4 linked regions of the Homo sapiens genome follow. The protein of the gene in region 1 purifies or fractionates together with the protein of each later gene. This does not show direct contact. Each region holds a gene or a part of one and is shown in the gene's direction. Other genes may lie near its edges.

Region 1 (8,150 bases):
ATGTCCCATAACAACGTGCTCACAGAACAGGTCCCCGCCTCCTTGATTGGAGAGGGTTTGTGGGTTTAAAAACCAGTTAGAGGTGGAGGAGGGCATAATACACTGGGTTTCATTCCCACATCCGGTTGTATTGTTTAAATGGGAACATTACTGCCACTGTTGGAAGATGTTGCACCAGGAAATTGGGCCTGTTCTCATGGTAGGTAGGAGAATGTTTCAGTGGCCACAAACTTGAGCTATTAATGAGAATGAGGCCAGGTGCAGTGGCTCACCCCTGTATATGCCAACATTTTAGGAGGCCAAGGCGGGCGGATCACCTGAGGTCAGGAGCTCAAGACCAGCCTGGGCAACATGGTGAAAACCCGTCTCTACTAAAAATACAAAAATCAGCTGGGCATGATGGCGAGTGCCTGTAATCCCAGCTACTCGAGAGGCTGAGGCAGGAGAATCGCTTGAACCAGGGAGGTGGAGGTTGCAGTGAGCCAAGATCGTGCCACTGCACTCCAGCCTGGGCGACGGAGGAAGACTCTGTCTCAAAAACAAAAAACAAAAAAACTCCCCAAAAAACAGAATAAAACTTATCTCCATGCTGCTCCAAATCTGTGCTGTCAGAACATGTCAGAATGAGAGGACCTTGGGGGTTACACAGGCCAGCCCCTTCTTTTATGGTTAAGCGTCTGTGTCCCCTAGAAGCTGGCTCTTTTGAAATCTTATAGCAGTTTATGCATTTTCTTATGATGCCTGCTAGTTTCTACCCCATTTCATCTCCATGTGTACACATGTGACTCTAAGCTTTCTGAGGCCAGAATCTCTACTGGGTTTGTCTTTGCATCGTCCACAGTGTCTGAATCAGCGCCCTGCACAAAATGTAAACTCTTCAAATATTGGTTGACTTGCCTGGGCATCTCATCGCACCAAGACTCCTGCCCCTGCCCCTGTCTTTTCATCAGACCATGCTTCTTGTAGACTCCTCATCCAGGGTGCAATATAGTGTAAACCCAGCAGTGTCTTGTTCACAGGGCTCACATGACAGGGCAGCCCTTCCTTGATGGATCTGCTCTCTCCATCCTTGCCTGTGGGGAACAGCTGCTGCTGGTGCTGACCAAGTAGTCACTTGACACTCAGCAAATATGAAGTGTAGCTCTTTATTATTATTTTTTTTTTTAGATGGAGTTTTGCTCTTGTTGCCCAGGCTGGAGTGCAATAGCACAATCTTGGCTCACTGCAACCCTCTGCCTCCTGGGTTCAAACGATTCTCCTGCCTCAGCCTCCCAAGTAACTGGGATTACAGGCGTGTGCCACCACGTCTGGCTAATTTTTGTATTTTTAGTAGAGATGGGGTTTCACCATGTTGGTCAGGCTGGTCTCGAACTCCTGACCTCAGGCGATCCACCCACCTCGGCCTCCTAAAGTGTTGGGATTACAGGCGTGAGCCACCGTGCCTGGCCTGAAGTGTAGCTCTTAATTAGACCATGGACTTTGTACCAAGACCATCAGGTTTGGATCTTGGTTCTGCCTTCAGGAGCTGCATGATCTTCAGCAGGTAACTTAATCTCTCTGTGTCTCAGTTTCCCCATATGCACAATAGTAATACTTTCCTCATGGAGTTGTTGGGAGGATTAAATTAAGTAATACCTAGTAGATACTCAGAAGACCACCTAGCACTTGGTATATGCTAAATTGAAGTAACCATTATTTCGCCTTTTTTTATCTGCTTCTTAGCTCCCACCAGCATTTAAGCTCTTTGAGAGCAGAGATTTTTGTCTCTTTTTGTCTACTCTTATAATATAGTACCTAAACTTTGTAGTACTCTGAAAATATTTGTTGAATTGAATGACTGATTGAGCACCTATGTGCTAGGCACTGTTGCGGATGCTATGGACGTAGCCAAGAACACGGTCTTTAAGAGGCATGCTCTTATGAAGTTTATCTTCTAGTGGGAGAGACAGATAGTAAACAAATAAACGAGTCAACAAAAGAATGTAGGGTGGTGAGGCCGGGCGCGGTGGTTCACGCTTGTAATCCCAGCACTTTGGGAGGCCGAGGCGGGTGGATCACCAGGTCAGGAGATCGAGACCATCCTGGGTAACATGGTGAAACCCCGTCTCTACTAAAAATACAAAAAAAAAAAAAATTAGCCGGGCATGGGGGCGGGCGCCTGTAGTCCCAGCTACTCAGGAGGCTGAGGCAGGAGAATGGCGTGAACCCGGGAGGCGGAGCTTGCAGTGAGCCAAGATCGTGCCACTGCCCTCCAGCCTGGGCGACTAAGCAAGACTCTGTCTCAAAAAAAAAAAGAATGTAGGGTGGTGAAAGAGATACGGGGGAAAATAAAACAGAAGATAGAAAGTGGATGGGACGAGGGTTAGGGTCATAACTTTAGCTCTGAGAAGGTGGCTTTTGGGAGACATGGATGGTGATCTAGGGGGACAGCTTTGTGGACAGAGAGGACTGCAAGAATGATCAACCCAGAGGGGCTGGAGTGTGGTTAGTGATGAATCAGCAGGGGCCAAATTTGTGGCTGTGGTTAGGAGTTTGGATTTTACTTTTGAATTCTGAACAGTGGGAAGTCACTGCATGGGAACTTTTCCTGGGGTCTAGGAGAATATTTGAGTCCACACTAAAAGACAGAACAGGACATTACGAAGAGCGGCTGGAATAGGCTCTCCTTGTCCTGGGAGGTTTTTGAGGCCAGCCAGAGTATTGAGTTTCTTCCCATCAGGTTCCTTATTTCTCTGGCCTGGTCCCCTGAAGATGAGGGAAGCATCAGCTAGGTTGATGACAGTCCTGGTATGTGTGTCTGTGTGTCCTGCATTTTATTGAGCTTCCTTTTTTCCGAGTCCCTAAGTCATCAGCAAACATTTCTTGAGTTGAATGAATGAATGTTGCCAGTGCTTAGCAGCTTGTCGTCTACAGTGGAATGTCTGTGTTCTCTGCTCCTCTCTGTGTGAGTTAAAGCTTCTTATCTTGGCAGTGACTCTTAAGTAGTCTTGGAGTTTTGCAGCCATTCTTCATAAATGCATCAGCGACACACATACATGTATATCACTGTTTCTTTGTTGAGAGTATACCAAGATTGACTGGACAGCTTTCCTACCCCCACCCTATCCCTACTTCTCTGCCAGTCCCTGCCATCACCAGGCCCCTCTATAGAGGGTTGGGCCACACTGGCAACTCTGACCATCTCCTGTTTGATTACTTGATCAGGAACACAGTGGTATCTAGAAAGCATTGGTTGTCTTTCATCTGGGCTGAGCGGAGTTGGGTAACTCAGCAGAGCGCTGAGAGAAATGGCATTTCAAACCCAGGGGCTCCACTCACCAGGAATCCAGAGTGGGACTCTTTAGACTGGGTGCCATTGGCCAGCTTTTCAGATCCCTTTTTGGTCCTCCCATCAGTTGTCCACGATGCCACTTGCTCTGCTAACCTGGAGAGACCAACACAAGTTAGTGGGAATCAAATAGGACGCTTGTGTTGCAGGTCACTTTCAGAGTCCTGGGGCATTTTATTGGCAGAATCTGAAATGCCTGCTAGTCATATGTCATCTGTAGATTTGTAAAAACTAAACGCAGAGTGGGTGCAAGCTTTTTCTCATGTAGCTGGTTTTCTTACTATGAGAATGATACGTGCTCATTTAGAAAATGAGAAAGTGAATGATAGTGGCATTTTACATACACTGTCTCATTTCATCCTCACGGTTTCTGAGATACGTACCATTATTACCATTTTGTATGTTAAGAAGCTGAGGCCTAGAAAAGTTAAGTAAAGTGTTTGAGGTCGAGCTAGTTGGGAACAGAATCAGATTCAAACCAGGCAGTATGACTCCCAGGCAGAGCTCTGAGCACCATGTCATATACTGATTCTCAGCAGAAACCATAGAGAAGAAAGAAAAGCCTCCCTTAAGCCCAATGTAGGTGATACTCTTAGGGTAGTCAGAGTTAACTTGCTGGCTGCTCCAAAGGGTTTGAATCCTAGGCCCTTTCCCTGTCTTGTCTGACCCTGGGCAAGCTAAGTAGCCTCCCTTTGCTTTACTTTCCCTGACTGTAAATGGGGATAATGATACTTGTACCTTCGTAGTTCCCAGGGGCATGGTGGTGTTTGAGCCAAAGTGCTTTTGAACTTCTTTTATGAAAGGGAACTGAGCACCAACTACTGTTATACTCAGTTATTAAAGACCTATTATGCTCTGGTCTTCCATGAAGCCTTGTTAAAAAGGGAAAGACAACAGTCCCCAGAGGGAAGGGTGTCCTTCTGTGGGGGAATAGCTGGACAAAAACATTGTTCTCCCCTTTTGAAGTTTCTTAAGGATTGAGGGTCATACCTGTGGCTCCATTTTTCATGGTTGTGTTGTAGTGTAGAAACTTCTGTAAACAGGTATGTGTTCTGTGCATCATAACATGATTGAGGACCCCCAATGGCAGGGCCAAGAGGGAGTTAAAGGGCTTGGTTTCTAATCTTGGTTCTGATGTTTTTTATAAGCCAGGATCACAGAGACACCAAGAAGTGGTGGTTGTCTTCCATTACTCCTCCCTCCCTCCCCTCCTTCCTTCTAATGACTCATTGATTCAATTAACAAATATTTATTAAGGCTTTATTACAATCTGGACACCATCATAGGTACTAGGAATATCGTGGCAAGCAGGACAAAAATAGTTATTCCCCAGCCGGGCGTGGTGGCTCACGCCTGTAATCCCAGCACTTTGGGAGGCCAAGGCAGGCGGATCACGAGGTCAGGAGATTGAGACCATCTTGGCTAACATGGTGAAACCCCGTCTTTACTAAAAATACAAAAAATTAGCCTGGCGTGGTGGTACGCACCTGTAGTCCCAGCTACTCGGGAGGCTGAGGCAGGAGAATTGCTTGAACGCTGGAGGCGGAGGTTGCAGTGAGCTGAGATTGCACCATTGCACTCCAGCCTGGGCAATAGAGTGAGACTCTGTCTCAAAAAAAAAGAAAAAAAAAAAAGTTCTTCCCCATACCAAGCTCTTAGTCTAGGACCAAAAGGCTTATTATATAGTTGGGATCGTGTGAATGAAGAAAGAATGATTTGATGAGAGTGCTTTGAACTCTTAGGAGGAGAGTCAGGACATGATCTCCAGATGCACACTGGCCCCAGTGGCTACCTGCCCTGAGTGGACATTAAGGTGGGGGGCTGGGTTGGCTTTCCAGAAGAGCAAGGGAAGAGTGAAACAATTAGAGCCCTTCCGTGTCCTGTAACAAAAGCTGTACTTGGTATGGACATCTTGAGAAACAGTGCACACCTCAGGAGCCATGGTTAGCAAGAACTCCCTTCCCACTTAAAGCCTTAACCCTTTGACTGTTAACTTGAGTTTCAGTCAGGGAGAAATGCTCATATTGAGGATTTCTTTTCAAAGTTTTTGCTTGGGGCTGTGGATTTTGAAGTTCTGCCATTAACACGGTGCACTTCTTATGTAACAGGCGCCAGACCTTGTCTCTGCAGAGTTCTCTTCCTGCCCGACACGTCTCTCGCTGCCAACTTTGGAAAGCAGGCATATGGTGGCAGGCGGGCTCTCCACAGTGCTCATGGGGTTCCTGGGGGAACTGATGCACATGGACACCTATGTCCTCTGGCCCCCATTTTGGGTCAATATATACAGATTAGAGTGGGGGCAGGGTTCTTTCTTCCCCAAGCACCAGGCCTTCAGCTCTCTTCAAAGACCAAGGTCAGGGAGGTCTAGCAAGCAGTTCATGTGAAAGCACACAGTGTTCCTCTCTCCCTCCAGCCAGGGCTGGGTAGAGAGGGCAAAGGGCTGGCAGAGGCAGCCACTCACATTTGGAGTGAGAGGAGGGTGCCAGGACAGCGAGGCATATCCTTGTGCGATGTTATTTTCACCAGCCCTTGTCATGTCACTGTATGTGGCACTCCCGGTGCTAATCAGCTGGCCCTTCAAGCTGAGGGGCGGGGCAGCAGCATCCAGCATCTGATTAGGAAGGCAAGGCCTGCACAGCGAGGAGGCCAGGTCACTCAGTGCACCTGGACATCTTCAAGTGTGATTGGAGCCCGCAGTGACGCTGTTTCAGCTAGAAGATTGTGACCCACTTCCATATCCTCTCCCACATGGAGAGCTGGGGAGGAGGCTTTGAGAGCCAGCTCCAATTAAGGTGTTTTTTTCAGGCCCGAGTAGCACCCAAGTGTCTAACCCACATGTTTTCTGCTGCTGGAATCCTGTGGTCAATGTCCTTGACCTGAACCGAATAACCACCCCAGGGCAGATGAAGTTACCACCCCTGAAGTCCTAGATTCCACCAGCAAGGCTTCCTGCAAAGATCAGGATCCCTTGTGGATCAAACACCTCACATAATATGGGCCCCACCCCTGTTCTTCCTGATCAATCACCAAGCAAACCTTGGACCAGTTTCCAAGGAGATACTTAGCCTTGACCTCCCTGCCCAGACAGGCCTCACAGCCACCTGCCTCAGGCAGCCCTGGCTTCCCAGAGACCCATCCTGACCCTGACTTGCACCCTTGCCAAATATCCTAAATATCCTTCTGCTGCAGGAATATGAAATGAGACCTGTTTCTGAACTTCTAGGTTTCTGTTATTCTTTCCAGGTAGATGACATTTTAATGCTTCTCTGTAATTTTACATTTCTTTTTTGTGTGTTGGGGAGGGGCCTGGGGTATGATTTAAATACGTGAAGCTGTTAGTACTGGTAGCACTTAAGCTGGTGAAGTGGTGGGTCTGAGCCCCTGAATAATCCCATTTTACTTACCAAGAAGGGAGCAAAAGTACCTGCCAAGGTCAGCTCTGGCTAGGCCCTATGAGCCTGTTCCTGAGCGTGTGCTCACACTCGGCTTCTGGACTGAGGCAGAAGGTCCTTCTCCCTCCGTGTGTGTTAATACTGTTGGCACTGCCCACAGCCTCCAGGGGCACATAGCCTTCCTCTGGCCGATCGCTGGAGTTGCAGGAAGATGAGGTGCTGGTGATTTTTTGGAAGACATGGTGGGGCTTACAGGCAAGCAAGCTGGCCCCCAGTTCTGCTTTCCTGCACAGAGCAGTCTTCCAGAGTTTGTGGTGGGATGTAAGGGAGCTCGGGCAGCCGGAGCAGTGCAGAGACCTGGCTCCTTCCTCCCTCCTGAGGTCTGCTGCTGCTGGCACAAGGGGTCACGTGTGCCCGTTTGCCTTGTGTTTGCTTTGGGTGCTGGCTTCCCACTCTCACTTCCTAATCTCTAAAGAGGAGTGGCCTGTTAGGTCCATGAGTGGTGACAGTGGAGATTGAAGTGCTTAGCGTCAGGCACCGCACTGCACTGGCAAGAGCACTCAGATGAAGGGTGTTCTTTCATTCTCATCTGACCGCATTCCACTTCATTTAAAAACATCATTCGCCCAGGCTGGAGTGTGGTGACACGATCACAGCTCACCGTGATCACAGCCTCAACCTCCCAGGCTCAAGTGATCCTCCCATCTCGGCCTCCCAAGTAGTTGGGACCACAAGCACATGCCACCATGCTGTGCTAATTTTTTGTATTTTTAGTAGAGATGGGGTTTCACCTTGTTAGCCAGGATGGTCTCAATCTTGTGATCTGCTCGCCTCGGCCTTCCAAAGTGCTGGGATTACAAGCGTGAGCCACAGCACCCGGCCTCCACCTCACTCATTTTAATGGCATTCTATTGATTGTTTTTTTTTTTTTTCTTGAGACGGAGTCTTGTCGTCCAGGCTGGAGTGTAGTGGTGCAATCTTGCCTCACTTCAACCTCTGCCTCCTGGGTTCAAGGGATTCTCCTGCCTCAGCCTCCCGAGTACCTGGGATTACAGGCATGTGCCACCAGGCTCAGCTAATTTTTGTAGGTTTAGTAAAGGTGGGGCTTTGCCATGTTGGCTAGGCTGGTCTCGAACCCCTGACCTCAGGTGATCCACCCACCTCGGCCTCCCAAAGTTCTGGGATTACAGGCGTGAGCCACCATGCACAGCCATTTCTTTCTTTCTTTCTTTCTTTCTTTTTTTTTGAGACGGAGCCTTGCTCTGTCGCCAGGCTGGAGTGCAGTGGCATGATCTCAGCTCACTGCAACCTCCGCCTCCCGGGTTCAAGTGATTCCCTTGCCTCAGCCCCCCAGGTAGCTGGGATTACAGCCATGCGTCACCATGCCCGGCTAATTTTTTGTATTTTAGTAGAGATGGGGTTTCACCATG
Region 2 (5,770 bases), on another chromosome or scaffold:
GCAGGGCTGTGCATGAGCTTTTGTGCGTGGCCATAGGAATATCTGTTTGGGCTCAAACACTTCTGCTTATGGCTCTTGCAGGCAGTGAGGTTGCCGGAAAGTGAGATATTACTGTAGTAATTTTTTGTTTGTTTGTTTTTGAGACAGAGCCTCACTCTGTTGCCCAGACTGGAATGCAGTGACGCAATCTCGGCTCGCTGCAACCTCTGCCTCCTGGGTTCAAATGATTCTCTTGCCTCAGCCTCCTGAATAGCTGGGACTACAGGCGCATGCCACCATGCCTGGATAATTTTTTATATTTTTCGTAGAGATGGGATTTTGCCACGTTGGCCAAGCTGGTCTCAAACTCCTGGCCTCAAGTGATCTGCCTGCCTCGGCCTCCCAAAATTCTGGGATCACAGGCGTGAGCCACTGCACCCGGCCTACTGTAGTAGATTTTTAAATAAGTACAGCTTATTTTTCTCCCTCATTATGGAAAAAAAGGAGGGTAGAAAGTGATGAGGGAAAAAAACAAATCATTCATGAGCTTACAGGGTCTCACTGTGTTGCCCAGGCTGGTCTCAAACTCCTGGGCTCGTGTAATCTTCAGGTCTCAGCCTCCCAAAGTGCTTGGATAATAGACATGAGCCACCATACCTAGCTCTTGTAGTACATTCTTAAGTGAAAACCTCATTGGAAATGTAGATTGCCCTAGAGCTGAAAGCGATTTGGCTCTAACCTTCCTTTTTATCTGCCTGCAACCTTCTGTGCCCTTCCCTGCCCCCTGCTGCCTGCTTCCATCTGTCTGTCTCCAGCTGTGAAAGGAGGATGCTGCTGAGGTCAGTGCAGCCTTGTGACCCATGTGTCTAATTTCCAGGTGATTGAGGCTGACCACCACATGGAGAGGATGTTAGAACTCTTTGAACAAAATCGGGATCGAATATTAACTCCAGAGAATCGGAAGCATTGCCCATAGGAGGCAAAAGGTCTATGGCTCATGTCTGAAAAATGCCTGCTGCTGCCAAGTTAGCTATTGGGAGCAATCTGGAAAAACTTGCTCCCAGGAGGGCTTTGTGTCTGGCCAGCTTGATTTTCCTAATGGTCTCATCTCCTTTGCTAGTGTCTTTGTCATGCGTCTCTGGCCCTCGTGGGTAAATGACAAACGGGACCAATGGGTTTGCCAAGCCCTTTGCTGTTCGCAGCCTCACATTCCCCCGGTGCCTCTCCCATGGCTTTGTGCTGCTGAGTCGCTCTCATGAAGCCCTTAGGGAGAGCACCTGTTGTGTGCCTGACACCACGCTGGAGCTGTGTACCAATCGTCTCAGCCTTCATTAGGAGGCCGAGGTAGGAGTCTTATATCCCAGGTGAGGAATTTGAAGCTCAGAAAGGTTGAGGGGCTCCCCAGAGGTCACACAGCCTGTGTGCAGTGGAGCTGGCACCATTCAGACTTTCAGCCGACTCAGCAACTTTCCCTTGCCCTGGGCTGCCTCCTCCTGAGAGCTGTTCCCCACCGCCCTGCCTCTTCCGGTTGGAGGCTCTCATGTCTCTTTGGGGAGAGCTGGCAGTGTGCGGAGCTGATAACATTTTCCCAATATTGAGCAGTTCCCAAGGACAGTCAGCATTTCTAGACTTCCACAAAATTATGCTGCATTTGGCTGGAGCCCGGTGTTCAGTGGTTTCCCTGCCCGAGGTCGCTGCAGCCCCATCTACCACATCTTCATGTGGACATTGAGATTCACATGCTGGCTCCTGAAGGGTGCTCAGTCTCCTTGGTGATTAAGGTCCTGCTTGAACTGCTGCCAACTCCATGTCAGGGAAGTCGCTTTTGGTGCCTGGCTGGTTTGCCCAGAGCCAAGCTGGGGCAAGGGGCAGCCAGCCCTGGCTTCCAAGGCTCCCGTACTGTCTGTGTCCTTGTATAAGGAGCTTTGCTCTTGGAATTACTGAAAGTCTGTGGCCCAAGAGAGAGACACAAGTGGCCTTAAGTCTTTTTGAAGTGTTATTTCATCCAGGGAAATGCCTCGAGCCATAGAGCCTGAAATCATCTTTGTTGGCTCAGAAAATACCTTAGCTTCACTCAGCTGGACTGCATTGAAGGCGAGGCTGCCCCTTGGATCAAGCAGAAAACAAGAGAAAGAAAGAACGTTCCCTTTGGGGATAGTCTGGAAAGTTGGGATTTGCAAATAAAGGCTCTGGAAGCATTGCTGGTCCTGAAGCTTTGGAGGTGGGCAGAGAGAGCTTCAAGAAGACTAGATGCAAACCCTGGAAAGGATTAAGGCTCAACTCTGGAGAAACAGGCCACAGCCTCTCAGAGCAGCTGTTGGCTGTAAATAGAGGTAGCAAGGCCGCTCCCAGGCCCCTGTGAGTGTGGGCACCTGTGCATGCAATGCTCCGACTCTGCAGAGGTGCCAAGTGCCCCTGCTGGGCCAGTCCCAGAGAGTTAGGAAGTCAAGGCCTGCAACTCCTGGTTCTTCCTGTTTGGACCAGTTCTTGTGCCATTGGCAGGATGAGAGGCAGCAGCCAGGCGGGAGCTGTGTCTAGCAGCACCTGTAGCCCACGTGCTGCTAATTAGCTGGAAAACTGGCGAAGGCAGAACCTTTGCTACCAGGAATCTTGACATGTGGGGTCTGTCTTTGAGAATTTGTAAATGAACAGTCCAATATTTCCTCTCGGCTCATTTTGCACATCCATTTTTGGGGAAATGTGATTTCTCTCTCTTTTTTTTTTTTTTTTTTTGCCTAAGGCACAATCTCAAGAGGTCCTGAGACCACGTACCCATGATTTTTTTCTTGCTCTGTGATACCCAATAACTCCTTCACCTAAGCCCTGTTGTTGATTTTGAAGTGCTTCCTAGGCCAGTGATTTTAGCTTCTGCCAGCTGCTTTTGCCAGTAGATTAACGTGTTTTTATTTTTCAAACTCCGTGTTTCCTAACGTGGAGTGTATGGGTCTAAGAGAGCCTGCTGTCCTCCCTGCCTTCCACCTTGGAGAGGAGGCTGGACGCATCAGCAGTGGCCAGGGCAGGTCGCAAAATCTCCCAGCCTAGAGACCACACCTGAAACGGCTGAAGCCAGCTTGCACAAGGGCTGCTGTCCCTCTGCGGCAGGCAGAGCTGGTGGGGGCAGGGGTCACAGAGCAGTCATAGACACCATGGACCAGGGCAGGAGAAGGGCAGATGGCACATGGGCACAACAGGGCCTTGTCCTTAGAGCACTGGGGGGTCATGGCTGGGAGGGGCATGGCAGGGGCTGGCATCCCTGTAGAGCCAGAGGGGCCACCCAGGGCAGTGACATTCCAGATATGTTGGGCTCACCTCATCCTTGCTGTGAGACTGGAGTTCCATGGGGACATGAAGTCAGTACACCGCAGAGCTGCTCAGCTGCTCTACCTCTCGCTGACTTTTTTGTTGCACATATACATTTTCTTTCAATTAGCATTTATTTCAGCTTTTATTTAAGCTTTTTGACAGTACATGTAAAATATATGATTATAACCATTTAAAAATACCTTATGTACCTGGTTTTTTTTGGAAACTAGATAGAAATATATTTATCTTTTACATAAAAGAAGTGTGTAGTGGGGTGGTCCAGGGCTTTGTGGTGGCTTAGTGGCCATCGGGGTCCCAGGCTCTTCCCACCTTTCTCTTTTGGGTCCACCTCTTGGCTCCTGGCTTCCTTCCTCTGGGGCCTGACTGTCCAGGATGGCAGCTGGAGCTCCTGCTCTGGGCACGGTTGGCATCAGAGCCCACTGCTCCCCATCCACTCTTTAATCCAGATGCTGGTAATGTCCCTTTCCAAGGCATAACTAAGATAAGCTGGAAGGTTCTTACGAGGCTTTGCTAGAGGCCCTGGGAGGTGGGGGGAAAGGCAAGAGGGCAGTGCCCACCCATAGACCGGGTCACATGACCTGGCATCAGCGCCGTGGGGTCCTTTGGGCTTCACCTCCCTCTCCCCTCTGCCCCCACGTCATCCCACCCTCATCCTCACCCTCACCATTCCCATCCCGTACCGTAATGTCCCTTGCAAGGCCTAACTCTGTGAGGAATGAAACCACCTCATCCTTGTTCCAATAACATGAGTGACCGAATTTACAAACGAGTGAATGTGGACCTCTGGAAACATTACCCAGCTTGTTTTTACTTTTCACTTTCTCTTTCTGCCCCTTTCATTTCCGTAGGAGCCCTTTACCTAGATGAGAAGTGTCCCCCCGCCTGGGGAATATATCAGTCAGAACAATCTTCCTGCAGACATGCACCATTAGACCCGAGTGACGGTGGTGCCATTTAAACCTCAGAGCAGGTAAAAGGTGGTCCTGAAACCTGTCTACCCACAGGGTGCTATGGAATCTGAATCACTTCTTTTTTCCTAGAGCCCTGGGGTGGGGAGCTCCCTCAAGTGTTCACATGTGTGTGGAATGAGGAACACCCATCTCCTTGGCCCTCTCCACCCTGAAGAGTTAGTTATTAAAATAATTGGCAAGCTCTTGCAAATGTCAGTCATCCATTGTTCAGAATGGAATAGCAATAATACATCCCTGGCTGCCCTGGGCTTGGCCAGGATTACTCACTGAAGGCCTCAGGGTTACTGGCACACACTTTCTTTTCCTAATAATCCCATCCCCTCAGCTTTCCTAAGGCTAGAGTGAATTTCGTGTTCCTTTAGTTTACATAAGATGGTGAACTTGGCAAAAGCTATCATTAAACAGAAGCTAAGAGAAAGCCTATGTCGTGGAATCCAGAATGGGTATTGCCATTCACTGCTGTCCACAGAAGCTGTCTTGAATTTCTTTCTGTGTCTTTTCTTTTTTTTTCTTTAAGACTGTTGTTTACCAGACTGGGCTCTGTGGAACACAGGTGTCCTGGGAGATGGTTAATCATTACAAAATATTGGTAACAATCTAAAGATGCATACATAAGAGAGTGGTCAAATAAACCATTTTCCATTCACATGGTGGAGTACTGTGCAGCTATACAGAAGAATGAGGAAGATCTCTCTGAATGGTTATGAAGTAATGTCTAGGACATAAAGTTATGTGAAAAATGCAATGCCCAAACGAGTGTCTATAGTATGCTACCCTTTATATTAGAAAGAAGAGAGGCCAGGCGTGGTAGCTCACGCCTGTAATCCCAGCACTTTGGGAGGTGGGTGGATCACCTGAGGTCAGGAGTTCAAGACCAGCCTGCAACATGGGGGAACCCCATCTCTACCAAAAATACAAAAAAGTTAGCCAGGCGTGGTGGTGGGCACCTGTAATCCCAACTATTTGAGAGGCTGAGGCAAGAGAATCACTTGAACCCAGGAGTTGGAGGCTGCAGTGAGCCGAGACTGCGCCATTGCACTCCAGTCTGGGCAGCAAGAATGAAACTCCATCTCGAAAAATAAAAAGAAAACCGATAGAAGAAAATACACAGATGCAAAGGAAATATAGGAAGGACGCCCAGAGACAAAATAGGTTGGTGGGTAAAGGCTAGAAAGAAGGGAAGGATGAGACTGGGCTACAGGGATGAGAAGGGAATGACACTTCTTTGAAATATCTTTTTATTTTATTTATTTATTTTTTTGAGACAGGGTCTCGCCCTGTCACCCAGGCTGGAGTGCAGTGGTGTGATCTTGGCTCACTGCAAGCTCCACCTCCCAGGCTCAAGTGATTCTCGTGCCTCAGCCTCCTGAGTAGCTGGGATTACAGGTGTGTGCCACTACGCCTGGCTAATAGTAGAGACAGGGTTTCCCCAGTTTGGCCTGGCTGCTCTCAAGTGATATGCCCACCTTGGTCTCCCAAAGTACTGGGATTAGTGA
Region 3 (8,150 bases), on another chromosome or scaffold:
TACATGAGATATTTTGACATAGGCATGCAATGCATAATCACATCAGAGTACATAGGGTAGCTGTCACCAAAAGCATTTATCCTTTATGTTTCAAACAATCCAATTGTACTCTTTTAGTTATTTGAAAATTTACAATTAAATTGTTTTTTTTTTTACTATAGTCACCCTGTTGTGCTAGCAAATACTAGGTCTTATTGATCTTCCTATTTTTGTCCCCATTACAAGGATATACTCTTTTGTGTTCCTATTTAAACCAAACCAGATTATTGTAGAAAATTTGGAGCATACCGAAGTATAATGTGGCAGAAAAATGTCACTTAGAAGCAACTACTGTTAGTGTTTGGGTAGAGCTTTTAGTCTTTCTTCCTCTTTTGCCTGCTGTGGTTGGTTGAGATTAAGAGGCACATTTTAAGTAATGATTGATGCACCTAAATTCACCTGGCCTTCATCTTTGTGTGTCTGGGGCCTGAAGAACAGAGGTCACAAACGTGTTTGAACCGAATGGTTTCTTGAAACATCCTTGGAATGAAATCTGATATGAAAGATGTTTATATGGGTGGCAGGACAAAAAGTATTACTTAATAACAAAACCCTTCTGCTGAAACTTAGCCACAAATATGAGGAAAACATACTTTGTAAAATATAAATTAAATGTTAACCACTTCATTAAAGCATTTGGATTGCAGAATATTAGTACTTGGTAAGCTTCTGAGACTGTATCTTACCATCACCTTCTTCCATCCCACAATATTTGATTGCATTCCTCCTTCTACCACCTAATTTAAGCATTTCTCCTCTAATTCCTCCCTTCATTTTACTTTATTCCCAGCTTTCGCTTCTGCTCATATCATCGGCAAGGTAGGATTGCTTTGACGGGCCTGAGATCTGTGCCATTATTTATGAGTTAGTCAAAGTCTGCTCCATTCTACCTCTCACTTTTTGGTAGAGTGCTTCACCATAATCTCATTTAATCTTTCTGATAGCCCCCTGAGAACAGTAGTTTCATGATCCTCATCTTTATAGATATGGAACCTGAGGTTCAAAGAATTTAAATAAGTTAAGATCACATTGTCAGTCAGTAGCAGAGCTGGGCTCATATCTAGGTTGTTTTTACTTTAGACTTTTGGAATTTGGTGGACACAGTTTGTGTTGATAAAAGCTACTACCCTGGGGAAGACAATGACCAGAGATAGGAAGGAGGGGTCCGTCATGAGTGGGTGTTGTCCACAGTGGTGATGCCATGCAGGCTGGAACATGCAACATGCCCTGAGCAAATGCACATCTCATTACATATGTATATCTCTTCGCCATGAGTAGGGATCTGCCTGGTATGGTTGGTTATTCTTGTAACAAGCAATCAGTAGGAAATATTAGTAGATGTAAGATTGGGGAATGAGAGGGTTTTAGTGTCTGGAAAACACCTGTAAGTGGTAACATTTGCTCCTGTAAAATGATGTTCTTATAACTGCAAGTACAGATGAAAAAGTTTCTACAAAGCCTTAGGAAAAGTAATAGACCATGGAACACTTTTAGGTACAGTTGTGTTTGAACTTCTAATAGTGAACTTGATTTGGGGGAAGGCATAGTTTGTTAAGACATTAAAAGCCTTGGCCGAGCACGGTGGCTCACGCCTGTAATCCCAGCACTTTGGGAGGCCGAGGCGGGCAGATCACGAGGTCAGGAGATCAAGACCATCCTGGCTAACATGGTGAAACCCTGTCTCTACTAAAGATAACAAAAAAAATTAGCCGGGCGTGGTGACGGTCACCTGTGGTCCCCGCTACTCAGGAGGCTGAAGCAGGACAATGGCACGAACCTGGGAGGCGGAGCTTGCAGCGAGCCGAGATCACGCCACTGCACTCCAGCCTGGGCGACAGAGTGAGACTGCGTCTCAAAAGAAACATTAAAAGCCTTAAGGAACTGAGCCCCAGATTTCATTTCCCTTGAGACCTGTTCCTTTTTACTTTGTTAAAGACATGGTTCTTTTTCTCTGTCCTCAAATAATAGCCAGCCCATCTTCTATAAAGTTAGATTCCTCTTGCAGTGGGGGTTAAAAGTTGCTCAAAGCCACACAATAAGGGGTTTGGACCAAGGAAAACGTCATCTGAGTGTCTAGGGTAGCAACTGACTAATATTTAAATGTGAGCTTTGAATCTAAGTGACTCTGGTTCTATTTGTCTTATTTTATATAACTTCAACATTATATTGCTGATCAAATTTCTTGCTTAAACGTTGGAAATACAAGAAAAACTAGGTTTTTAAGTTGGACTTTACCCTGTAGTTTGTCCTATTTGTCCGTGAGTTGTACCACTAGGGTCTTAGGCATTATTAACTTTCAAACACGTGAGGAAGGGAGGAAGCAAAGTCCCAGGAGTGTCAGTTTGGAAGACAGGATGAGCCTCAGTTATGGGGAGTACTTATAACAGAGGAGCCTCAGTTATGGGAGAAATATAATGTGAAATTATATTTCACATAATTTCATATGTGGAATTATATAGTTTAATGAAGGAGTAGGAAGCAGCAGCAGATGATCATGCTACATTTGTTGAAAGTACTTAGGGATCTCAAAAATATTAAGAGGGGTAACCTTAGTAAATGCAGTGCCTTGCAAGTACATCACTCCCCTATCTACAGTCCCTGTCTTGCCAAAAAGAATGCTAATCTTGAATCATAATTTTATGTTTCAATTTTATGGTGGCATTATGGAAAGAATATTCTTTGCTTTATAGCTAACTTAGATGGAATTTCTATACATTTATAGTGAAAGATCTTTGAAAGTTATAAGTCACCTGCAAAGTATGTTCTTTGATTTGTTTATTGTCAAAGCAATTACATAGCACCTACTCCTGAGCAAGTATACATTCCCCTGAAGTGTGAGGCACTATGGGATAATTTATGAAGATGTCTAATGGGGTAAAGTGTGTCAAAATGACAGATGATATTTTTGAAGGAGATTAACAGGATGAATCCTATAGTTTTCCCCTATAGTTCAATCTTGAACCTATTCCTAAATAATTTAGTTAAGCAAAAGTCAAGTACTCAGACTGATTTAAATGTCTTCAGTATTGCCTTCTGTGAGGAATAAAAACAATTATGAATGGGATTCCATTACTCATGGTACTTGCCGTTCTGGCCAAGAATAAAATCTAGTGATTTCATAATGTTGGGATTATTCTATGACGGGATGCTTAAAGGTTAAAAATGCTGATGTCATTAGTAGATCTAAGTGTGGGATCCAGCTAGGCCAATATCGGCATATTGAGGGCTTCTGGCCTATACCGTTTTTTAAAAAATTTACATTTTTAATTTTAAATTATGGATGCATAATAGTTGTATATATTTATAGGTATATGTGATGTTTTGGTACAGATATACAATATGTAATGATCAAATCAGAGTAATTGATTTACCTCATGCATTTGTCTATTACCTCATGCATTTATTTTTTGTGTGTTGGGAACATTCTAATTCCATTATTTTAGTTATTTTAAAATGCAATAAATTATTATCACCCTATTGTGCTACTGAATACTGATCTTATTTATTCTAACTATAGTTTTGTACCTGTTAACCATCCTCACTTTAACCCCCTCGCTCCTGTTACCTTTCCCTGCCTCTGGCAACCATAATTCTGCTATTGCAATACATTCAATTTTCAAAATTTTTAGCTCCCACATATGAGTGAAAACATGTGAAATTTGTCTTTCCATGCCTGACTTATTTCACCTAACCTTAGGCTCTCCAGTTCCATCCATGTTGTTGTGAATGACAGGGTTTCGTTCTTTTTATGGTTGAATGATATTCCATTGTATATATGTGCCAAATTTTCTTTATCTGTTCATCTGTTGATGGGCACTTAGATTGCTTCCATATCTTGGCTATTGTGAATAGTGCTGCAACAAACATGGAGTGCAGGTATCTCTTCAGTATACTTATTTGCTTTCTTTTGGATGTATACCCAGTGGCGGGCTTGCTGGATCATATGTCTACTACCTGTTTTTGAACAGCCCACAAACTATGCATGGGTTTTACATGTAAAACGGTTGAAATAAATTAATATTTCATGTGCATGAAAATTATATGAAATTCTAATTTCAGTGTCCATACCTGAAGTTTTATTGAAACAGATTTATTCACTTATATATTATGTATGGTGGCTTTCAGCTGCAATGGCAGAATTATACAATTGTACCTAATTATGGCAGAGACCAGTATAGCCTAGAAAGCCTAAAAAATTTGCTATTTGGTGGTTTACAGAAAAAGTTGCTAACATCTGAGCTAAGCTATAGTGTCTTTCACGTTTATCTCCTTCATCTCACTTAAACGGCCATTGTCCTGGTCCAAGTCTTTATTCTGTGTTACCAGAATTATTGCAAAAACCTCTCAGCTAGTGTTCATACTCCTGGGTTTTCCTGTCTATTTCTGTAAGTAAGTGCTGCCTGATCCTGCTAAAATGCATGCTACTAAACTTTTAATGATGTCCCAATATGTATAGAAAAACCTACATGCTTTGGCACAGGCTTTTTTTGTGTCACTATTTTTTCTTATCTTTCTAGGCTAGTCTTCTCCTGCTTCCTTATTATACCCTATACTTACAGTGGCCATATAATTTTCCAAATGGGACACTTAAGTGTGAAAGGGGCCCTAGTAGTAATTATGTTGGGGAAACAGGCCTAAGACAATACTGTTCTGTAATAATGATGCATGTGCCTCTTTCTCCTAACTACCCTCTCTGTCTTGACCTTGCCAAAAGAATGCTAATCTTGAACCATAACTTCAATTTTATGGTGGCATTTATGGAAAGAATATTTTTTGCCTATTAGGCAAATCAGGATGTATGGTTACTCTAGCTATACTCCAACCAGTTTGAATGGGCTCGCCATTTTCCATATGTACCTGTTCCTTTGCCTTCACTCACTGTTCCCCTAGATTGGAATTCCTTTACTTTTTTCTGTAAATCTAAACCTTGCCTTTCCAAATCCAGCTTAAAAAATACTGTGTCCACGAAGCCTTACTCAGAAATATTCTCTCCCATCCCACCTCTCTTTTACTAATGAAGTGCTTTCTCATGGTGTGAATTACTTTGAGTTTTAGGTACACACACACACACACACGTACTGAAGATGAAGACATAATTCTTGTTGGATTACATATTCCTCATAGGCCTAGCATTGGGCCATGCCTAAATGGGATCTGCAAAATGTTTGAAGAATGAATTAATTGGTCAGGCTAGGGCGACTGAGTATTTGGGGCTTTCAATTTATGAGTCATCCATTTTAATGTGATTAAAGCAGTGAGAAAAGGGTTTCCAAGAACTGAAGACTGAGCCTCAGGTTTCAATGTGACAGTGTAGCAAAATGGTTCAGGGCATAGATACAGACTTCTCGAGACTAAATTCCAGCTCTGCCATTTACAGCCTCTGTTACCTTAGGCAAGTTAACCTTTCCTCCTGTTTCTTCATCTGTGAAATGGGAGTAATCATAGTAGCCACTCCATGGAATGGTGGTTGAGGATTCAAACAGTGCCAAGTAACATTGAACTAACATTCACAGGTGAGCACTCTGTGAATGTTGGCTACTGTGACTAATATGATCATCTTCATAGTACTCTTACAGGTAGGTAAGAAAATGCAGACACCCAAGACCAAGATGTAACCGTGGAAGAGCTGGAGGAAATGCTACACCAAAATCTTAGTGGGTTTTTTTTCTTGATGGAAGTAGTCTGTTTTAGAGAAGTCATGAGAGAAGATGATCTCCACTTAGTAAGAAGTAACTAACCTGTAGTCTTTTGAGGCACCATTTCAGTAGAGTGGGTAAGGCACAAGTTTGGTGTCAGGAAACTAAAAAAGGAATGGCTAGAAGGGAAGGTAAATGGACAAGAGGAAGGGGAGGGAGGATAAGATACACAGCTGTGTAAAAGATGTTTCCTTAGTAAACTTTTTCTTCAAGCCAGATCACACTTTAAAAAGGAAGACACCCTGGGGGATAAATCAATAACCTATGTGTTCTTTTTTTGACATGATGTAAATTATTGATTAAAATCGGTACTTAAGTGCCAGTAACTTTTGCTATGGGATAAATGAGAAACCAGGTACAGGTTGGTGAGCTTTTATGAAAAACAAAACAAAACAAAAAAAATAAAGCTTGAGGTTGAAAAGGAATAGTTTTTAATTTGGGATGGGGAGTATTTATTCTTAGTAAGGTTCCTCTTTATAAGTTGGGGTGACTATTGCCTGGCTTACTTTGTGCCTTGAGGTTTTTCTCAAGAGTACTAATAAGGTGAGCCCTCCTTCATGTTCACCTTGTTCGTTTGCGTTTGATGAAATGGCTGCCTGGGTTTGGAAGGACAAGTTGGAACTGGAGATACCCCTGTGAAGTGAAGCCAAGTGAGCCAAGATCCTCAAACCATGACTCTAATATCTCCAGTGGGGGGTTGAAGGCAGAAGACCAGGGTTGCAGTTCCAGTTTGCCATTTACTGGCCATATGTTTTTGAACAAGTCAATCAGAATCTCCATTTTTTTCTGTGGAGATTATGGCCATCCATGAACATACTAAACTTATAGTACAAAAGTACAAAGTACAGAACTATAATGGATAATTATTCTTGGCTCCTGTTTTGACATAAATACCCTGAGATTCTTAAGTTAAAGTTTCCTAACATCTTAGCCCTGCCAACTGATTTTACTGTGGCAGTTACCACTAAAACTCTCAAGCCTTAGTCTCATGTGTACAATCCAGTCATTTCTGTCTGACTTTGGTTCAGTCAGTACACCTACTGAGTGCCTCATATGTGCCAAGCGATGTGCTAGGTTCTAGAGATACAGCAGTAAGACCTGCCTTGATGCAGCTTACAGTCTTACAGGGCACATAGCCATTGAACAGGTAATATATCTCAAGGGATCCATCGCAAGTGCACCAAATGTGGTTAAGCGGGATGCTACAGGAGTAGGTCAGCAGGCCTGACCTACTTCCCAATGGGTGAAGAGGAAGTCTAAAGCCAGGGGTTCTCAAAACATGGTCCTTGGACCAGCCATGTCACCATCACCTGAGGACTTGCTAGAAATGCATATTCACAGTCCCACCCCAGACCTACTAAATCAAGCTCTGGAAGTGGGCCCAAGCAATCTGTTTAATTTGATTTTGATATACATTAAAGTTTGAGAACCACTGGCCTACAGGAACTAACATTTAAGCTGAGCTCTAAAGCTGCATGATCTAGTGCGGTAGCCACTGGTCACATGTGGCTATGGAGCACTTGAAATGTGGCTGGTTCACATTGAGATATGCTTTCATTATAAAGTACACACCAGATTCCAAAGACATACTGTGAAAAAAAAGAATGTAAATTGCCTTATTAATAATTTTTGTATGGATCATGTGTTAGAATTGTATTAGTTCTCATGCTGCTAATAAAGACATATCAGAGACTGGGTAATTTTATAAAGGAAAGAGGTTTAAATGATTCACAGTTCAGCATGGCTGGAGAGGCCTCAGGAAACTTACAATCATGGTGGAAGGGAAGCAAACATGTCCTTCTTCACATGGTGGCAGCAAGGAGAAGTATAAGTGAAGTGGGGGCAAAGCTCCTTATAAAACCATCAGACCTCGTGAGAACTCACTTTCTATCATAAGAACAGCATGAGGGTAACTGTCCCCATGAATCAATTACCTCCCACTGGGTCCCTCCCATGACACATGGGGATTATGGGAACTACAATTCAAGATGAAATTTGGTCTTGGCCCCTCCCAAATCTCATGTCCTCTCATTTCAAAACATAATCATGCCCTTTCCAACAGTCGCCCAAAGTCTTAGCTCATTTCAGCATCAACCCAAAAGTCCAAATCCAAAGTCTCATCTGAGACGAGGCAAGCCCTCTCTGCCTATGAGCCTAGAAAATTGAAAGCAAGTTAGTTACTTCCTAGATACAGTGGGGCTACAGGCATTGGGTAAATATACCTGTTCCAAATGGGAGAAATTGGCCAAAACAAAGGGGCTACAGCAGGCCCCATGCAAGTCCAAAATCCAATAGAGCAGTTGTTACACCTTAAAGTTCCAAAATGATCTCCTTTGACTCCATGTCTGAATGATAGCTTTTGGACCTATAGGATTCATGTGGCTTGTAGAAAATTTAAAACTTCATTGTGCCTCG
Region 4 (8,150 bases), on another chromosome or scaffold:
TCCCAATTTAGAAATTGTGTTACCTAGCATCCATCTTTTAATGCTTAAGCAAAGGGGGAAAAAGATGGTTCAGTAAATTGTTCATTATTTATTACCAATTTTCGTGACAATCTTAGATATCAAATATAATGTGTTTGTCTCAGAATTGTTTTGACCAACAAAACAGAAGATGTGATTTCTTGTTACCAGGTCATTCATCTATCATGTGCCAAATGAGCAAATAGGAAGAGAAGCCCAGTGGTTCAAATACGCTTTACTGATGTTTTCCAGCTGGAAGAATATTCTCCCAGAGATAACACAGCTGGCAATCCTGCATGGCTCTCAAAGAGCAACACTGCTTTAACATTTCTGAAAATCATTTGAACATTTTCTTAACAACAGCCTTTAAAGATGGAAATAAAGAGACTCCCTAGTGGTATTATTTTGTCATCCAAAACTAGGAAAACAAATCATCTTTGGCCTGTTATTTTCTGTTCTCTAAACTTAATGATGAGCTGCCATTAGAGGCTGTCAACAACAACAAAGCAGGAACCCTATTCTGAAAATGATAATTAAGGGACACTGATGTGTTGAGCAAAAATCAGAAGTTTGGTTTCCCATTTGTAACAGTAATTGAATATGGAGGCAAGTAGGGCCTCAGAAGACTGACGTTTTCAGGTTTTCTGTCTGTTCATAACTAACTGTATGGCCCATGCAATCAATTTACCTTCTTGGTGGCTTGGTTTTTATATTATCTCAGCAATATTTTATTGAATGCCTCTTATAGGCCAGCCACTTTGCTAATGACTAAAGAGCCACTGAATAAGAAAACTAGGGCTCCCTGCTGTCATTAGAGGTACGTTATAGAAGAGAAATATATGCTCAAAAAATACAGTAAAGTAGGAAGTGTTAGTGATAGGAGAGGAAGAGTGTCTTGTGGGAACAGATGAAAGGGGACACAGCTTAGAAAGTTGGGTGGAGGATGTGCCAAGTCAGTGGAGCCCTGTCAGGTGAAAGGGTAGGGCAGAGGAGGAAAGCTCAGGCATTTCACATAGAAGGGACAGTAGGCCAGGTGTGGTTGCTCATGGCTGTCATTCCAGCACTTTGGGAAGCAGAGGTGGGAGAATCCCTTGAGGCCAGGAGTTCAAGGCCCACCTGGGCAACATAGCCAGACCCCACTTCCACAACTTTTTTTTTTTTAACTAGCCTGGTGTGGAAGCATGCACCTGTAGTTCTAGCCACTTAAGAGGTTGAAGAGGGAGGATCACTTGGGCCCAGGAGATGGAGGCTGCAGTGAGCTTTGATAACACCACTGTACTCCAACCTAGGTCACTATAGAGACCTAGCTGTCTCTATAAAACAGACAAACAAACAAAAGAGTATATGCAAAGGCCTGGCAGCTAGAAACAGCACAAGGGTTTCTGAAGTTCAGTGTGTTACTAAGAGTCTGTGACTCCAAACTGTGTTGCAAATATTTCTATGCAAATTTCATGTGTGTGACAGCTTTCATGTGTTACACACACAGGAGCTGAAGGATCCTCACTGTCGGGATGAGATGGCAGCCGCCCGAGGGGCTCTGAAGAAGAATGCCACAATGCTGTACACGGCCTCTCAAGCATTTCTCCGCCACCCAGATGTCGCCGCTACGAGAGCCAACCGAGATTATGTGTTCAAACAAGTCCAGGAGGCCATCGCCGGCATCTCCAATGCTGCTCAAGCTACCTCGCCCACTGACGAAGCCAAGGGCCACACGGGCATCGGCGAGCTGGCTGCGGCTCTTAATGAGTTTGACGTAAGCATCCTGGTGAGGTACACAGAGGGGTGGGCACTGGTGTTGACAAAAAAAAAAAATGTATTGAGGATGAAGGGCCACTACAATAATTTACATTGATTTTTCTCTTTTGGAGGTTTTAATAGTAAGATAAACTACATAATGCATTTCTGTAATATATTGGCTAAGCCATTATCACTTGTCTTTAAAGAAACAACTGTGGCTGCGGTGGCTCACCCCTGTAATCCCAGAACTTTGGGAGGCCGAGGTGGGTGGATCACCTGAGGTCATGAGTTCGAACATGGAGAAACCCCGTCTCTACTAAAAATGTAAAACATTAGCTGGGCGTGGTGGCGCATGCCTGTAATCCCAGCTACTCGGGAGGCTGCGGCAGGAGAATCGCTTAAACTCGGGAGGCGGAGATTGCGGTGAGCCGAGATCGTGCCATTGCACTCCAGCCTGGGCAACAACAGCAAAACTCCGTCTCGGGGAAAAAAGAAGAAACAACTGTATTTAAGAGTGCCCAATCCCTTCCAGGTAGATGAGATAACTTACAGGCTATTTTAGGGACAGTTCATAATTTGACGATCATCTTTATTATTAAAGGGGCACATGTTATGGGCAGCCTAGATGTACGTTGCCTCTATGTTGTGCCTGCGTGAAAAGCTGCCATCAATTTCTTTGTTTTAAATCAGTGATAAAGTACATTGCCCTATGATCCCACACAGGACCCTGGTCTTCATTAGAACAGACCCTCTGGGGAGAGCCTGTGTTAGTTCTCTGAAAGTCCTACATTCTACACTGGCTGTTTCTGTAGGTGTGTCCTGGTGAGGGAAGAAGCAAGGAGGATTGTTCACTGTGCTGAGCCATATGTGAAGCATCAGTGTGAGTGAGAAGGTTGCACGCATGTCATCAGCACCCCGGGATGACAGCCCCCATTCCCCCCGGGTCAGAGGACCTGTGAGAAGTTGGAATTTATTTATCTTATGATCAATGAAAGCCTACAAAGATTTATAAATAATTAGCATCTACTTTCCAGGGTTAAATAACCCTGCAGGGGAGATGAGGGAAGTAGAATGCACTAAACACCATTTAATTGATAAAACACAATGTTACAGGAATTCATAGAAGAAAAATAGGTTACTTAATGGTCATGAAGAAAGATGATGAGCTTGCTTTTGAATATGTTGATGTGAATTTTTGGCAAGAAATAACTAGTTAGCAGCTGGAAAAAAAGGTCCAGGAGCAAAGCAATGATTGTTCAAGGCTTGGAGATGGATGATATAACTGAGGAATAATTTTAACAGTTCATACTCAAATAGTTCTTACCATTTTCATAGTGGTCTCTCCTCTTTCCCATATTTTTACAGTTAGTTATATGTATCTCACACCATATATTATTTCCTAAGGTTTTTTTTGTGAGGATTAAATATGATAATATATTTAAAGCACTTGCTACAGAAATGAAGACTTAATAATAGGTAATTTTATTCACAAAATTGCAGCGAGCAACTGAAAATTCATAGAAAATAATGAGAGTTCAAAATAATGTTTACTTTATATAACATAAATATACAAAAATCTCTAGATTTTCATCATGTAAAATAAAGTAGAATAACGAGGAGATATTCACAAAACAAATAATTTTTAAAAAGTTAATTTTATTTTATTATTTCTTATATCTGCTAGAAATAAGTCTAATATAGATGTGAAGGACCTAAAAAGTCAAATTATATTACTTTATTGAGGGACAAGTTTTACTTGTCAGTAAATGATATCATGATCTTGAGTAGGAGAACTATTGATCCTATCAGTTTTCATAATGTTGAAGCAATCTCAATACAAATTCTAAGAGGATTCTTTTGGAACTTGACAGAGGAGTGATAAAGGATTTTTGTTTGTTTGTCTTTTTTTATATTCTAGAATAAAGAATGAATGAGCCCATATTTCAGGGAAAAGTAAATGAGCAGGTCATACACACAGATATTAAAACATTGTAATGCTACATTAATTTTAAAGGTGTGTATTGAAACACAAATGGACTCATCCATGAAAGAATAAAAATCATAGGCAATCTCAAATACAAAATTATTTTATAAATTGGTGTTTATTAAAATTAGTTAAGAATGGATTATTTAGTCAGATTTTGACACAATTACATTATTCTAGTTATAATTTATTTTATAATCAAAAATAAACAACAAAACCTAAGTGAGGAGCTGGTTAAGAGTGAAAATATGAAGCACAGAGAGAAGGCCTGTGAACAGTCCAGGAACTTCAGCTGCTGCCACCTTCTGTCCAAGAGTGTGACAACTGCTGCTTCCCCATGCTGCCTTTTGTTTCCAGACGATTTTCATTAAAAGCACCTTTTATCCCCAATTAATGTAACAACCGATGCGTCAGTGCAACAGTGCAAAAGGCTTTCATTCATAAAAATCAAACTTGAGGTCATGTGGGGAAAATCTATTAGCAAAGTATGTCAACATGTTGAATGTTCAAGGTTTTTTTTTTGTTGTTGTTGTTTTTCCTGAAGTGATATCTCCTCATGCTGGACAAATAAGGCTTTGGAAATTTAACACATGAATATAACCATCAAACATGTTTTTTATAAAACATGATATATTTGAAACAGTTGGAAAAATTAAAATATAAAGTATAATATGGTAAATAAGTCACTAACTATATTTTATTAACTTTAAACTTCTATATTAACTAATTATATTACTTATAATATTAACTCAGTATATTATATATGAATGAAAAAATTATATTTTATATTAGCTAAGTATATTAATGAGGTAATATATTCTTATTAAATGTATACTGTTTCTCAAGCTATGAGAATTACATAAAGCGTTATCTAATGGTCAACATTTTACTTCTTGGAGGTCAACAAAAATCAAAATGTGGAGGCTGTCTGAATTGCAGTTTTGAAACAATAATTCCATTTGATGTGGTTCCCTAACAATTGTCATTTAACAAATGCAATTTAATTTCAGCACTTTCTCAAAAGTAGTAATGCTAGTAAATTAGTATTGAATTTACAGACTGTAATGTGATTCACCTGCTGTAGATTTTCCATCACTTCTGACATCAGCAAACCTAGACAGTAGTTAATGATACTTGAAATTTTCTCATTAAAATAATATACCGTTTCTCTTTATTTTATGACTAAATTATAAATTTCTGTTCCATAGTTGTATGATGAATACTGTTTTTTTAAAAATTTCTTAGGCATGCTAACTTGAAATTGATTTTGAATTCATGGACATCTGTCATGAGTCCTAAATGCTATTCTCAGATATTAAACAAATTGATATTTCATTGGGTGAAAAACTCACTCAAACTTCCTGTGGTTTACTTTTCTGGCAAAATCTCTTACTGATACTTGGTATAATACCTTTCTCATATAGTGAAAATTTAAATAAGTTTAACGTCTTTGAAATGCTGAAGTAAAAGGAACCATAAAAATGCAAAATATATTTTCATAGACAGCACAGCTAGTTTGCCCTAAAATTTATTTTTTAAAAATTTTACTTTAAGTTCCAGGATACACGTGCAAAATGTGCAGGTTTGTTATCTAGGTTTACATGTGCCATGGTGATTTGCTGCACCTATTGACCCATCCACTAAGTTCCCTTCCCTTGCCCCCACCCCGCAACAGTCCCTGGTGTGTGTTGTTCCCCTCCCTGTGTCCATGTGTTCTCATTGTTCAACTCCCACTTAGGAATGAGAACATGTGGTGTTTGGTGTTCTGTTCCTGTGTTAGTTTGCTGAGGATGATGGCTTCCAGCTTCATCCACGTCCCTGCAAAGGACATGATATTATTCCTTCTTATGGCTGCATAGTATTCCATGGTGTATATGTAGCACATTTTCTTTATCCAGTCTATCATTGGTGGGCATTTGGGTTGGTTCCATAACTTTGCCATTGTAAATAGTGCTGCAGTAAACATACATGTGGATGTGGCTTTACGGTAGAAAGACTTATATTCCTTTGTGTATATACCCAATAATGGGATTGCTGGGTCTAATGGTATTTCTGGTTCTAGATCTGTAAGGAATTGCCATACTGTCTTCCACAATAGCTGAACTAATTTACATTCCCACCAACAGTGTAAAAGCGTACCTGTTTCTCCACAGCCTTGCTAGCACCAATTGCATCTATAGCATCTATCTATTCTTGACTTTTTAATAATTGCCATTCTGACTGGCCTGAGATGGTATCTCATTGTGGTTTTGATTTGCATTTGTCTAATGATGAGTGATGTTGAGCTTTTTTTCATGTTTGTTGGCCATGTAAACATCTTCTTTTGAGAAGTGTCTGTTCATATCCTTTCTCCACTTTTGGATGGGGTTGTTTGTTTTTGTAAATTTAAGTTCCTTGTAAATTCTGAATATTAGACTTTTGTCAGATGAGTCGATTGTAAAAATTTTCTCCCATTCCGTAGATTGCCTGTTCACTCTGATGATTCTTTTGCTGTGCAGAAGCTCTTTAGTTTGGTTAGATACCATTTGTCAATTTTGGCTTTTGTTGCAATTGCTTTTGGTGTTTTCATCATGAAGTCTTTGCCCATGCCTATTTCCTGAATGGTATTGCCTAGGTTTTCTTCTAGGGTTTTTATGGTTTTGGGTTTTACATTTAAGTCTTTAATACATCTTGAGTTAGTTTTTGCATAAGGTGTAAGGAAGGGGTCCAGTTTTAGTTTTCTGCCTATGACTAGCCAGTTTTCCAGCACTATTTATTTAATAGGAGATTATTTCCCCATTGCTTGTTTTTGTCAGATTTGTCAAAGATCAGATGGTTGTAGATGTGTGGTGTTATTTCTGAGGTCTCTCTTCTGTTCCGTTGGTCTGTCTGTTTTGGGACCAGTACCATGCTGTTTTGGTTACTGTAGCCTTGTAGTTTAGTTTGAAGTCAGGTAGCATGATGCCTCTAGCTTTGTTCTTTTTGCTTAGGATTGTCTTGGCTATACGGGGTCTTCTTTAATTCCATATGAAATTTAAAGTAGTTTCTTTTTCTAATTCTGTGAAGAATGTCAATGGTAGTTTGATGGAAGTAGCATTTATTCTATAAATTACTCTGGGCAGTATGGCCATTTTCACAATGCTGATTCTTCCTATCCATGAGGTTGGAATGTTTTTCCATTTTTTTGTGTCCTCTCTTAATTCCTTGAGCAGTGGTTTGTAGTTCTCCTTGAAGAGGTCCTTCACATCCTTGTTAGCTGTATTCCTAGGTATTTTATTATCTTTGTAGCTATTGTGAATGGGAGTTCATTCATGATTTGGCTCTCTGCTTGTCTGTTATTGATGTAAAGGAATGCTTGTGATTTTTGCACATTGATTTTGTATCCTGAGACTTTGCTGAAGTTGCTTATCAGTTTAGGGAGTTTCTGGGCTGACATGATGGGGTTTTCTTGATATACAATCATGTTGTCTGCAAACAGAGAAAATTTGACTTCCTATCTTCCTATTTGAATATGCTTTATTTCTTTATCTTACCTGATTGCCCTGTCCAGAATTTCTAATACTATATTGAACAGGAGTGGTGAGAGAGGGCAGTTTTGTTATGTATTGGTTTCCAAAGGGAATGCTTCTTGCTTTTGCCCATTCAATATGATATTGGTTGTGGGTTTGTCATGAATAACTCTTGTTATTTTGAGGTATGTTCCATCAATACTTAGTTTATTGAGAGTTTTTAATGTGAAGCGATGTTGAATTTTATCAAAGGCCTTTTCTGCATCTATTGAGATAATCATGTGGTTTTGTCTTTGGTTCTGTTTATGTGATGGATTACTTTTCTTGATTTGCCTATGTTGAACCAGCTTTGCATCCCAGGGATGAAGCTGACTTGGTCATGGAGGGTAAGTTTTTTATGTGCTGCTGGATTTGGTTGGTCAGTATTTGATTGAGGATTTTTGCTTTGATGTTCCTTATGGATATTGGCATGAAGTTTTCCTTTTTTATTGCATCTCTTCTCAGTTTCAGTATCAAGATGATGCGGGCTCCATAAAATGAGTTAGGGAGGAGTCCTTCCTTTTCAGTTGTTTGGAATAGTTACAAAAGGAAGGGTACCATCTTCTCTTTGTACCTCTGGTAGAATTCACCTGTGAATCCATCTGGTCCTGGGCTTTTTTTGGTTGGTAGGCTATTAATTACTGCCTCAAATTCAGAACTTGTTATTGGTCTATTCCATAACTTTACTTCTTCCTGGTTTAGTCTTGGGAGACTGTATGTGTCCAGGAATTTATCCATTTCTTCTAGATTTTCTAGTTGATTTGCATAGAGGTGTTTATAGTATTTTCTGATGGTAGTTTGTATTTCTGTGGGGTCAATGGTGATATCTCCTTTATAATTTTTTATTGTGCCTATTTGATTCTTCTCTCTTTTCTTCTTTATTG

The links.
Region 2: the proteins of CTNNBIP1 (region 1) and TK2 purify together in Homo sapiens (affinity purification with mass spectrometry; 2 studies listed by BioGRID and IntAct, with this or other methods). This does not show direct contact.
Region 3: the proteins of CTNNBIP1 (region 1) and BPGM purify together in Homo sapiens (affinity purification with mass spectrometry; 2 studies listed by BioGRID and IntAct, with this or other methods). This does not show direct contact.
Region 4: the proteins of CTNNBIP1 (region 1) and CTNNA2 purify together in Homo sapiens (co-immunoprecipitation; 3 studies listed by BioGRID and IntAct, with this or other methods). This does not show direct contact.

The regions. Positions count from the first base shown.
Region 1 is NC_000001.11:9,899,574-9,907,723, reverse strand, and holds part of CTNNBIP1 (beta-catenin-interacting protein 1), read left to right. Parts: intron 1-8,150. UniProt on the Homo sapiens protein: Prevents the interaction between CTNNB1 and TCF family members, and acts as a negative regulator of the Wnt signaling pathway.
Region 2 is NC_000016.10:66,507,153-66,512,922, reverse strand, and holds the end of TK2 (thymidine kinase 2, mitochondrial isoform 1 precursor), read left to right. Parts: intron 1-856; coding exon 857-955; 3' UTR 956-4,920; downstream 4,921-5,770. UniProt on the Homo sapiens protein: Phosphorylates thymidine, deoxycytidine, and deoxyuridine in the mitochondrial matrix. In non-replicating cells, where cytosolic dNTP synthesis is down-regulated, mtDNA synthesis depends solely on TK2 and DGUOK.
Region 3 is NC_000007.14:134,649,032-134,657,181, forward strand, and holds part of BPGM (bisphosphoglycerate mutase), read left to right. Parts: intron 1-8,150. UniProt on the Homo sapiens protein: Plays a major role in regulating hemoglobin oxygen affinity by controlling the levels of its allosteric effector 2,3-bisphosphoglycerate (2,3-BPG). Also exhibits mutase (EC 5.4.2.11) activity.
Region 4 is NC_000002.12:79,872,572-79,880,721, forward strand, and holds part of CTNNA2 (catenin alpha-2), read left to right. Parts: intron 1-1,504; coding exon 1,505-1,771; intron 1,772-8,150. UniProt on the Homo sapiens protein: May function as a linker between cadherin adhesion receptors and the cytoskeleton to regulate cell-cell adhesion and differentiation in the nervous system. Required for proper regulation of cortical neuronal migration and neurite growth.